Regions from separate parts of the Homo sapiens genome. Here region 1 is linked to region 2. A link means that fine-mapping ties the variant in region 2 to the expression of a gene that starts in the linked region. Tissue or cell type: whole blood. Region 2 holds a variant in brackets; the other region holds the start of a gene. All regions are shown on one strand. Distances are from middle to middle.

What was found. PIP is the estimated chance that this variant, and not a neighbour inherited with it, causes the effect.
Region 1: ST8SIA6 starts here. The variant in region 2 is fine-mapped to the expression of ST8SIA6 in whole blood (TOPMed, PIP above 0.99).

Annotation. Positions count from the first base shown.
Region 1 is chr10:17,451,666-17,457,098 of GRCh38, forward strand. It overlaps ST8SIA6 (ST8 alpha-N-acetyl-neuraminide alpha-2,8-sialyltransferase 6), which reads right to left and starts at 2,930. Exons shown (of 8, transcript NM_001004470.3): 1 at 2,490-2,930; 2 at 1,894-1,992. The coding sequence starts at 2,590.
Region 2 is chr10:17,506,335-17,511,767 of GRCh38, forward strand. No RefSeq gene overlaps it. Among named protein-coding and RNA genes, the nearest start is that of ST8SIA6, 54 kb to the left of the region's middle. The variant T/G (reference allele first, on the strand shown) is at 2,936.

The sequences.
Region 1 (5,433 bases), 55 kb before region 2:
ATTATTACCATGAGGCTCATGTGGGAAGATCAGACCAGCTCCAGAAAAATGAAGAAATTACAATTTCTCTATACAACCAAGTAGTATGGTGGATTAAAACTTGCACCCCTGCTCCATAAATAACCAAAATCATAAATGATAAAGGGGACATAAAATAAATCAAAACATAAAGAGGCTTTTACAAACACAGAATGGTATAAATTTTAGAAAGCTTAATAAAATGGGCCATATTCAGAATTATGAGTTACCTATATTAGCCCAAGAAGTATGCCAAGTAGAAAAGAAGTATGTCAAAAGAAAGTGAAAAATTCATCAAAGATTACCTCTAAAAACGACCTGAGATCAAACCATTTAATGAGTACATTCTTTCCAACTTTCCCCAAGGGTCAACCCTCGAATGTGTAATAGCCACAGGACTCGGGAAAAGATGGAATGCTTCTCAGCTCATCAAGAAAGCTAGGCTACCTATAGTACACCAACCTGAATAGAATAAAACTATAGGACACTATTTTTCTCAAAAGCTTTTGTTACTCCAGGAGGTCCTAGTGCCTCTAATATGCTGTGAAATTCCAATGAGGGGGTGGCAGGCAGTGGTGTTCCTCAATTCAGGGTTTATCCAGCCACTTCCAGACCCTTCTTAGAGCCGTGCTAGAGCTTCCTGGAGTTACACCATCAGAAGATTAAGGTGGATCCAAGAGCCAAGAATATAGAGAAGCATACGCAGAAGAAAAGGGATTTGCAAGAGATAAAAAGAGGAAAAGAGACCGTATAGCAGATTGCAATCATAATAGCAATGCTAAGGCAGGAAGCAGTACATTCTGCTTGTGAAAATGTAAATTGATTCAGCCCTTCGAGGAAGCAACTGACAATGTGACTTAGAATCTAAAGAGTACATACTCTTTGACTTACTAATCTCAACTCCTGTCTGTCCATCTTGGGTAATTAATTTGAAATGAAGATAAAGATTTACATACAAGGATGCATTTCATAGAATTACTGATGGCAAACAAAATAAAACAGAAACAAGAAGCAACCTAAATGTCTGAAAATGGAAACTATTAAATAGATTATGGCATGTTCAGATAATAAGTTATGCAACAATCCAAAGCAATGTTTTTGTGGGGGGAGGGGAATGTAATGACAGGTATAGGTCTAGGATTTTTAGAAAAAAGGCAGAACATAAACTGCAATGTATAATCTAAGTTATATTTTTGAAATATATGTATATAGAAAAGACTACTGGAAGAAATATAGACCAAAACCACCTTGAATATGGTCTCTGAGAGGTAAGGACTCTGAATGAATAACATTTTCTTTTATACAGTTCTATTTTCTAACTTTCTGCACAAAGCTGTATTACTTTTACAATCTGAAAAAAAAACAATTACTGCCTATGAATAAAAACACATGTGAATGATAAGAAAAAAAATTTAAGCCTCCAGTCACTAAGGACAAAATCATTCCTAGCACGCAAAACAAACCTGAATCTTAACACCGGTGCCCTTTAAAGCATAGAAAAGAAAAAGCAAACCAACCAAATCCCTCCATAAAGACAGGCTGAGCTGCTTCTCTCCAAAGGTGGCGGGGTCGGGGGCGGGGGTGCTTTCAACACACCATTGTCGAGAGGAAAACTCAGCACCCGTTTTTCAAATGCAGCTGCTGGAGGATCCCCCTTGATTCAAAGACCATTCACATCCAGGCTTAGAGGGTTGAGGGAGTGTGAAGGGTGCCCCCCCCCAACCCCGCGCCCTCTTCAAACACACGCACACTCTTACACTCACTCGCGCCGTCCCAGCCTGCCTACTCCCAACGAGTCCAAGCCGGTGCAGCCGCGCCCCATGCCCGGCTCGCAGCTCCCGAGCCCCAGTCCGCCCGCGCTGGGCGCCGCTGTACCTGTTAGTGGCGCGCGGTACCGCGGTCGCCGGGCTCCGGAGCGTCCTCAGCGCTGCGGGGGTGCCGTGGGTGGCCTCCCTGCTTTCCTCCACCAGAATCCTGCACAGCCGGGGAGAAAACTTAAGTTGCTACACCCCGCCGGGAGCTGTTGGCTGAAAGGCTGGGAGTCGCGCTCCTTGCCTGGCAGGGAGATCTCGCACTCCCCGGCTCCCAGGCCAGGTCCCCAGCCCCAGAGTTGGAAGAGCCTTAGGGCGGGAAGGAAGAGACAGCAAGGACCAGAATGGGGAGCATGAGATCCTGATGCGGAACCCGACGGCAGGTCCCGCTCCACAGCTGCCTCGCCCACAGCGATGCGCGCTAGAGCCCCCGCAGCCCTGACCGGTCCCTCTGCTCCCCAGCCGCCGTCCACCGGTCGGAGGGTCGCCTCCCTGCGACCCCCTCCCCCACTCCACTCTCAGGCCGTCGCCGCCCGTGGGCTGCTCCCCGCCGCGGCCAAAAGTCTCCGCGCCCGAGGGGAAGCGATGGGCGGCTTGGGGGTCCGGGGGCGCCAGGCGGGGCGCGCGGCGCGGGGCGCGGCCGGCGGGTGGGTGGGTTACCTGGCGCGGCCGGGCGCGTCTGCCGGGCACCAGAGCAGGCGCAGCAGCAGCAGCAGCAGCAGGCTGGCGAGCAGGGCGAGCAGTGCGCCCCCCGGCCGCATCCTGAGCCACAGGCGCCGCCGCCACCGCTGCTGCCGGGGCGAAGCACAGCCCGGGCGGCCCCGACTCGCGGCTCCCGCCGCCGCCGCCACCGCCGCCGTGGCCGCAGCCCCGCGCACCCACAGCGTTCACAGGCGGCAGCGAGGGGCGCCCGCAGCCCACCCGGCAGAGTCTCCGCGGCGGGCGGAGAAGAAGCCGCGTTCGGGCTCGCCCCGGGCTCCCGGCCCCGGCCCGCGGAGCGCCGCGATCGGCTGGCAGATGACGATTCGCCGAGCTCGCCGCCTGTCCTCCCGGAGGCGCTCGGAGCTGCTGCGGGCTCCGGTCGCCGCTGCCACTGCTGCTGCCGCCGCCGCCGCGCGGGGTCACCTGAAGGTTGGGGCGCGGAAGCTCAACTCCGTGCTGATTGGGCTCCAAGTTTTCTGCGCCCTCGCCTCGTCCCGAGTGCCCGCGAATCCCCCGGACGCCCACGCAGACCACCCAGCCACACCACAACTCTGCCTGCGGAGAGAGGAGAGGAGAAAAAGGGGCCGCTTCAAAAACTTTCAAAACTGTGCAGTCGCTTGGCTGGATCCTCCCACGCATGAAGAAAGCTGGGGACTGGGGAATTGCTGGGTGGATCATGACACTGAACAGAAGCAGTAACCTGTGCTTACTTCAACCCAGATTCAGAGGGACAGCGAACTGGTATGAGGGGCTAGGAGACCTTTAGGCATGAGCACATTACTACCTGGAGACCCGTTTAGCCCCTGCCTGTATTTGCAAATAGTTTTATTGGAAAACCTCCATGCCCATGGCTTTGTATTATCAGTGACTGCATATGGCTGTATGATCTAGGGCTGCAAGGGCAGAATTGAGTAGTGATGACAGAGGTGGCATAGCCCACAGGGCCTAAAATATTTACCATTTGAAACTTTCCAGGAAAAGTTTGCATACTGCTCTTAAATAAGCAAGAGGCCATTAGCTTGAGGCTGTCTCTGTACGTTGAGTTCCCACCTAACAATGGAAACCTACATTAGGCTGTAATGAACAGGGGGCTACTGGCCAATCATGGGCAACCAACTCATTATACCAGGCCCCACAAGGCAGCCTGCATAGCTATAGCCAATCAGTTTCTCCACTGTGCTTCTGAGTTTGGCCTATCAGGCTTTGCTGCTCACACCATGGGGTGGACCTCACTGGACCTCCTCTGGTTGTGAGTGCTGCCCAATTCATGAACCCTTTGCTCGAATAAACTGTGCTAAATTTAATTTGTCTGATGTTTTTCTTTTAACACTGCTATGGGCTGAATGTTTGTGTCTCTACAAAATTCATATGTTGAAACCCAAATCCCCAATCTAATGTGGTGGTATCTGGAGGTGGGGCCTTTCATACCTGATTAGTTCATGGGGTGGAGGCTTCCTGGTGGAATTAGTTCCCTCATAAGAGCAGGCAGCGGGGAATTTGCCTCCTCTCTCTCTGCTCTGTGCAGTGTAAAGACACAGCACGAGGGCAGCTTTCTGCCAAGCAGGAAGAGGACCCTCACCAGAACCTGACCATGCTGGCACACTGATCTTGGGTTTCTTACCCTCCAGAACTGTGAAAAATAAATTTCTGTTCTTTCGGTCACCCAGCCTATGGTATCCTTCTTATGGCAGCCAGAACTAAACCACGGTCTAGATCATATTGGTTAGTATCTCATTTACGAGTATCTCATCTGTTGCAGGAGAGTGATCCAATGACACTATGAAACAGACTGGCTCTCTATTTTTTTAAAAGTGGGTCTCAACTCTCTATGCCCTAAACTATCCTGACTGCCCAAGCCCCCACTTAGCCACTTCCCTAGGTTTTAATTCCATTGTGGTTATATGCAGGCTTATAAAATTATTCACTCTTACTTTTGTATAGTTTCGAGATTTTTCCAAATGCAACCCTTGGATTCCACCATCTTGGGAGTACCTTGATAAGATCTTTTGAAATGACTTCAATTTTGAAAAGGCTTTCATGAGTTAACTTTCCCAAGCAACAAAAATATGATATTTCAACTGACATCTCCTAGAAGCATATGGTCTTCACCTGAAAGAGGCCCAAGTGAGAGCCATTTGGGAGCAACCAGGCCAGACAGCCAAATAAAGCTGTCACCAAAGATTCCATCACAAGAAAACATATATCAAGGCAAGAGATACCAGTGTCCCTAGTCTCTTTCTGCTAATTCCGGATTTACTCTAAAAACATCTTGTTGAATACAAAACAGAAGTTTGCACATAATAATTGATCAATAAATGTTTAGTCAATGAATAAAAGCACATAAGAACTAGTGTTATTTTTAAAGAGAAAATGGAGCAAAAAAACTAAAAATAAATGTGACTAGGAATGTGATTTCCTTCTATAGCTCATCACTGCTGTTAATATATGTACTAATCAGGAATAAAAACAGGCTTCTACTTTTATATAAAACTAATATTTGTAGGGATTCAGTTGCTTCATCTGAGTATGACATAAAGTAATGCTATACTCAGGTAGTGATAGAATAATACAGAAATCTAGTTCTACATATTTCAAAGTTTAAGCCGTTTGTTAAATAAGTAGAATATGGCACAATCATCTAGAAAATGAAGAGTTGCCTGGATTTGAAAGATATTCCAATTTTTATCTCAGTGCAGAAAATTGTGCAGAAAACTAATGCTGAACATGGTTTGCAGAAAAAGAAAAAGGCATTATTGTATCAGCCAGGAAGCTGCAATTTCACCTAATTTACTAAAGTTTAATATTTCAGCACAGCTGGGCTCAAGGCAACAGCAGAAGAGTCAGCCTTGCACTGGGTTCCCTAAACACCCTTGCTGCAAATGAAGTTACTTTTTATCAAGCC
Region 2 (5,433 bases):
TAAAAAAGATAAAAAAGGAAGAAACACTTCTACATGAAGACTGATCTCCTACCTGTTTTTAATTCAAGAAGCACTCTCTGAGGAGAGGGGATGGGGAAAGAAGGATAAACCATTAAGGTCCATCGTCCTATTCCATTAGGAGAAAACTCTGAGAGATAATGAGACAGAAAGGCTCGACAGGTTTCCCCAAGGACAAAGCCAACTAGTTGCTTCAAGCAGCAGCTCCAGAAGAGCAACTATAAATTTCTTAGATCTCACACCCATTAAAATTCTAGGAAAAGGAGGCTAATTTTGCAAGTAGTCAGCTCGAACTTCCTGTTATGTGTGCCTCTTATAAAATGACGCGAAGAGGATTATATGACAGGAACAGTTGAATAGCTACAGCAAAGTTTCCAGGTTCTCGTAAAGACTATGTAAACAGATTCATCTTGAGAAGTCTACAGTTTTTTTGTTTTGTTTTGTTTTGTTTTAAATAATTAATTAGATTTAAGCACAAAAGGAACTATTTAAATAATTACCAAAGGTACTACCAATGCTGTTATATAAGTGATATCTCTGCTGCATACCCACTGGTACTGCTATGCCCTGTCGAATATGTATAAAAGAGGCATATTATCAAGAGAGGACTAGCTTTTGTAGATTGAAGACCCAGTGAAAATGGGAAGTAAATCTCTGGCCAGAGTAGTCAAAGTAATTAGGAAAGGAGAAGAAACAAGATGTTTTGACCACCAGTGAGGGTGATTAGGTGCAATGGTAGATCATTTCCAAAGATGGTTGCCAATAATTGCCACAGTCCCTGAATGTGCAAGCCACTCCTTTCATCAAGATTCATCAATCTATCTCTCTCCCCCTTGAATCTGGGCTATGCTGTATCTTGCTTTGACCAAGAGAACATAATGGAAGTGATGGGACATCACTTCACCTAGACTTCTAAGCCAAGGCCTTAAAAGAACTTGTAGCTTCCACTTTCGCTTTCTTGGAAGCCATTTATTATAGGCTAGACTATAACATGGTGAGAAACCACATGGAGACAGTGGTCTATGCCTGTAATTCCAGTGCTTTGGGAGGTCAAGGCAGGAGAATCGCTTGAGGCCAGGAGTTCCAGGCCAGCAAAACCCAATCTCTATAGAAAATAAAACATTAGCTGGACATGGTGGTGTGTGCTTGTAGTCCCAGCTACTTGAGAGACTGAGGCAGGAGGATCACTTGAGCCCAGGAGTTCAAGGCTGCAGTGAGCTATGACTGCACCACTGCACCCCAGCCTGGGCCACAGAGCAGACCCCTCTCTCTGAAAAAAAAAAAAAAATTTAAAAAGAAAAGAAACAGAGGCCGAGCCAGTCCCATCACCCAGCTGAGGTACCAGATGTGTGAACGACCAACCTCAACTTGAATGTTGCTGCCTCAGCAGAAACTAAATGCAGCTACAGGAGTGACCATAGCACGCACTCACTGGAGCAGAAGAACATCTCAACTGAGCCCAGCGAATTATGAGAAATAACAGTCTTTAATAATAGATGGAGAATTGAAATAGGTTCTCTGTCCCCAGTGACAATGAAGAGCTAGTTTGACAACATATGTGCCTTGATTGGTGAGTAGACCAGATGTGTGGACAAACTTCTGGGTAAGTCAGTGGCTTCCTGAAAGATGTGCAGTTTATTAGTCCATTTTCATGCTGCTGATAAAGACATATGCAAGACCGGATAATTTATAAAGAAAAAGAGGTTTAATTGACTCACAGTTCCACCTGGTCGGGGAGGCCTCACAATCATGGCGGAACGCGAAAGGCATCTCTTACATGGTGGCAGACGAGAGAAAAACGAGAACCAAGTGAAAGAGGTTTCCCTTATAAAACCATCAGATCTTGGGAGCCTTATTCACTACCACAAGAACAGTATGGGGGAAACCATCCCTGTAATTCACCTCCCACCAGGTCCCTCCCACAACACATGGGAATTATTGGAGCTACAATTCAAGATGAGATTTTGGTGGGGACACAGCCAAACTATATCAGGCAGTAAAGCGGTATCCATCCAAGCCACCAGAACGCCATTGCCAGTTCTGACACGATGAAGAAAGAGCAGACAAACTGGGATTGAGTTGAAGGGTTTTCTGAACACTTCCAAACTTAGACCGTATGGCAGAATCCCAGAAAGCTGAACGATACAACACAGAAACAATAGCTCATTCCTGTTTGCAGGGTTTGGGGGAAGGGACTAAAATGGCAGTCTTTTGAAAGGTGCAAGGAATACAGATAGGTGACGGGGGAAATTGATACAGAGACATGAAGGCAAGCAAAGCTAATAAGCCAGTCATCAGAGGGGCGCTGGGGAATCTCTGGGAAATCTCTGGAAATACACGGCAGAATGACGCAAGCCACTCGAAAAGGAAGCCAGAATGAATGACTATGTTCATGCATATGCAAACATGTATACATATGCATGGACGCCGATGGTTTTCTGGGAATGCTGCAAAAGGAGTAGAATGTGCCCCTTGGTATATTCCAGGAAACTGATTTCCCAGGGAAGGCAAAGTAAGAAGTACATGGAATAGGCTGGGTGTGGTGGCTCACACCTGTAATCCCAGCACTTTGGGAGGCCAAGGGGGTGGATCACAAGGTCAGGAGTTCAAGACCAGCCTGGCCAAGCTGGTGAAACCCCATCTCTACTAAAAATACAAAAAATTAGCCCGGCATGGTGGCAGGCACCTGTAATCCCAGCTACTCGGGAGGCTAAGGCAGAGAATTGCTTGAACCCAGGAGGCAGAGGTTGCAGTGAGCTGAGATCGTGCCACTGCACTCCAGCCTGGGCAACAGAGCAAGACTACACCTCAAAGAAAAAAAAAGTGCATGGATTAAAGTTTACAGGTGAGGTCCACGGACATTTTTGGTGAAACCGAACTCACAAGCTGTGATCATTGCCAACTAAGCAGTCAGACA[T/G]GAAGCAATCTTATCTCAAAACTGCAGAACATTTCCTGACAGAAAAGATACACACAAGTCTAATGGATGGGAAGCTTTGCAGTGAGAAAGCCACATCTTCTCACTTCTGCATGGCACACCACTCTATGGGCTAGTCAAGTGACAAGCTGATTAATGCATCAGAGTTCCCCAGAAACTGCTAAGACACTGAAAACTGTTTCATGAGAACACAAATTTTATTCAGTAATGAGACTAAATATAATAACTGAGAAGAATGTTATTGCAAAATATCAGGCAAATGAATTATTGTTTTCATGACAAAGGTCTTCAAAGCGACAAGAGAGAGATTGTATATTAAGCAACTTTAGTAAAATATTCTGTATGTAATGAAATAAAAAAATTTAAATTGGGATTTGCACATCCTTGTTTTTGTGTCTAGATCAGGTTCTTGAAAAACCAACTTAATTGTGTATATAATTGATATTTATTAAAGTATAGATTTTAAAATATTACCCTATTAAATTGTTCACAGTGTTGAGGCATTTCCACTGCTTTGTTGTCAAAAACACACGTCTAACTTCTAATAATTCCTTAAAAGTTTCCTTAATTTTATTTTCCCTTCTATATTTCCACACTAGTGAACAAATTCATTTGGTAGAAATGGTATTTTAGAGATGATATTCAAGTACGTATTATACTTGGATGAAAATAAACAAAGTAATGATGACTTGTTTTTGAGTCTTTCAATTTTTTCATTCTTACTGTGGCTAGAGTACGACTATTCTAATAAAAACATCCTGTTTTAAAGAATCAAAACATAGCAAATGTATCACATTATATCGAGATTTGAATTTAAGATAATGAAAATTATTGCAAATAAAATAACAGCTTGTATTTGGCAATCTGTAGCCAGAGACTATGATATGACAAATAAAAATATTTTTAATCAGAGAAAAAAATATTGGAAAAGAATTTCCTTCTGTTAGCACAATTAATTTATAAAATGCTGGTAAATATCTACCCTTTACAGTGTGACGCTATCTATAAAGCTTTGCAGTTATTTAATTCATAAAGCAACTCTCCTTTTACAGGTAGCAAAAAAGAGATACTAAAAAACTGGCCTGTGGTCTCACAACCCACAAGGAACTTGGGACTCTAAAGTTGAACCTCTCACAGCACTAACCGCAAACAAGAGTTTTGGTGGCCTTTGTGATACCAGAGAACAGCTTCTCTTTTCTGTTCTAGTGCTTCAAGTTGACAGTGTTGCTAATGATTTAGGATCAAGATCATTAATTCTACACATTTTACTACATTAAAAAAATTTTTTTTGAGACAGGGTCTCACTGTGTCATCCAGGCTGGAGTGCAGTGTCACAAATACAGCTCACTGCAGCCTTGATTTCCTGGGCCCAATCAATCCTCCTGCTTCAGCCTCCTGTGTAGCTGGGACCACAGGCACGTGCCAACATGCCCATCTGATTTTTTTTTTGTAGAGATGGGGTCTTGCTATGTTGTCCAGGCTGGTCTCGACCTCCCAGGCTCAAGCGATCCTCCTGCCTCAGACTCCCAAAGTGCCAGGATTGCAGGTATGAGCCACTATGCCCAGCCCATTTTTGAAATAACATATGGAAAGCAGAGTTATGTTAGCAAAAATTCTTAAATTTGTAATGCCAACATTTCAGCAATTCTTTAGCTGGGGAAAAAAAGAAGTACTAATAGTGCAAATTCTTGGTTAAATAATTTTAACTAGCAATAAATTATCATTGTATAATATTTGAAAAAAGAAGGGAATGTTAAAAGACAATAATCCTGCCCAGAGACATCGTACAAAATTTTAGCAGCTGGATAGAAGTATTGCTGTTTTGCAGTGAGCCTAAGGGATTATTTGGTCCAGTTCCCATCTTCGGTAGCGAAGGCATTTTTTATCCAGTAAGGTTAAGTGACTTATCCAGATTGCGTGGCCACTAAATGGTGGAGAGAAGACAAGAACCTCAGTCTCTTGCTTCTCCACGTACTTTACCTTTCTGTGCTTGACAACATCCTTTTAACTTCTGTACAGAGAGGGGACCCAGCCTGCTGGAGGAAAGGCCCAAGAGAAGTCGCTGATCCCAGCTAAGGGAAGTAGACATGTAAGCCCCAAAGAGAATGCTTGCAATTTACAGACTAGCCAGAAATTTACAGCTTTTATCAAACGCATTCAAATACGTTTGAAAAACAAGAACGTCCACAGTCCGGATGGGTGATCATGAGTTATATCAGCCCATCTGCGTGATCATCACACTTCTGATATGACTCATTGTCACTTCAGAAAGTATTTGTTATGGTTTGAATTTCTGCATCTGTTTCTGGAAGTTGTAGGGGGAAAAGTTGAATTAACTTTGAATTATCAATACTACTGCAGAAAACTAAAAAATGATTTGCATTTATTTTATCTTATTTTTATTTTTGAGACAGGGTCTCACTCTCTCACCCAGGCAGGAATGTAGTGGTGCCATCACAACTCATGCAGCCTCAACCTCC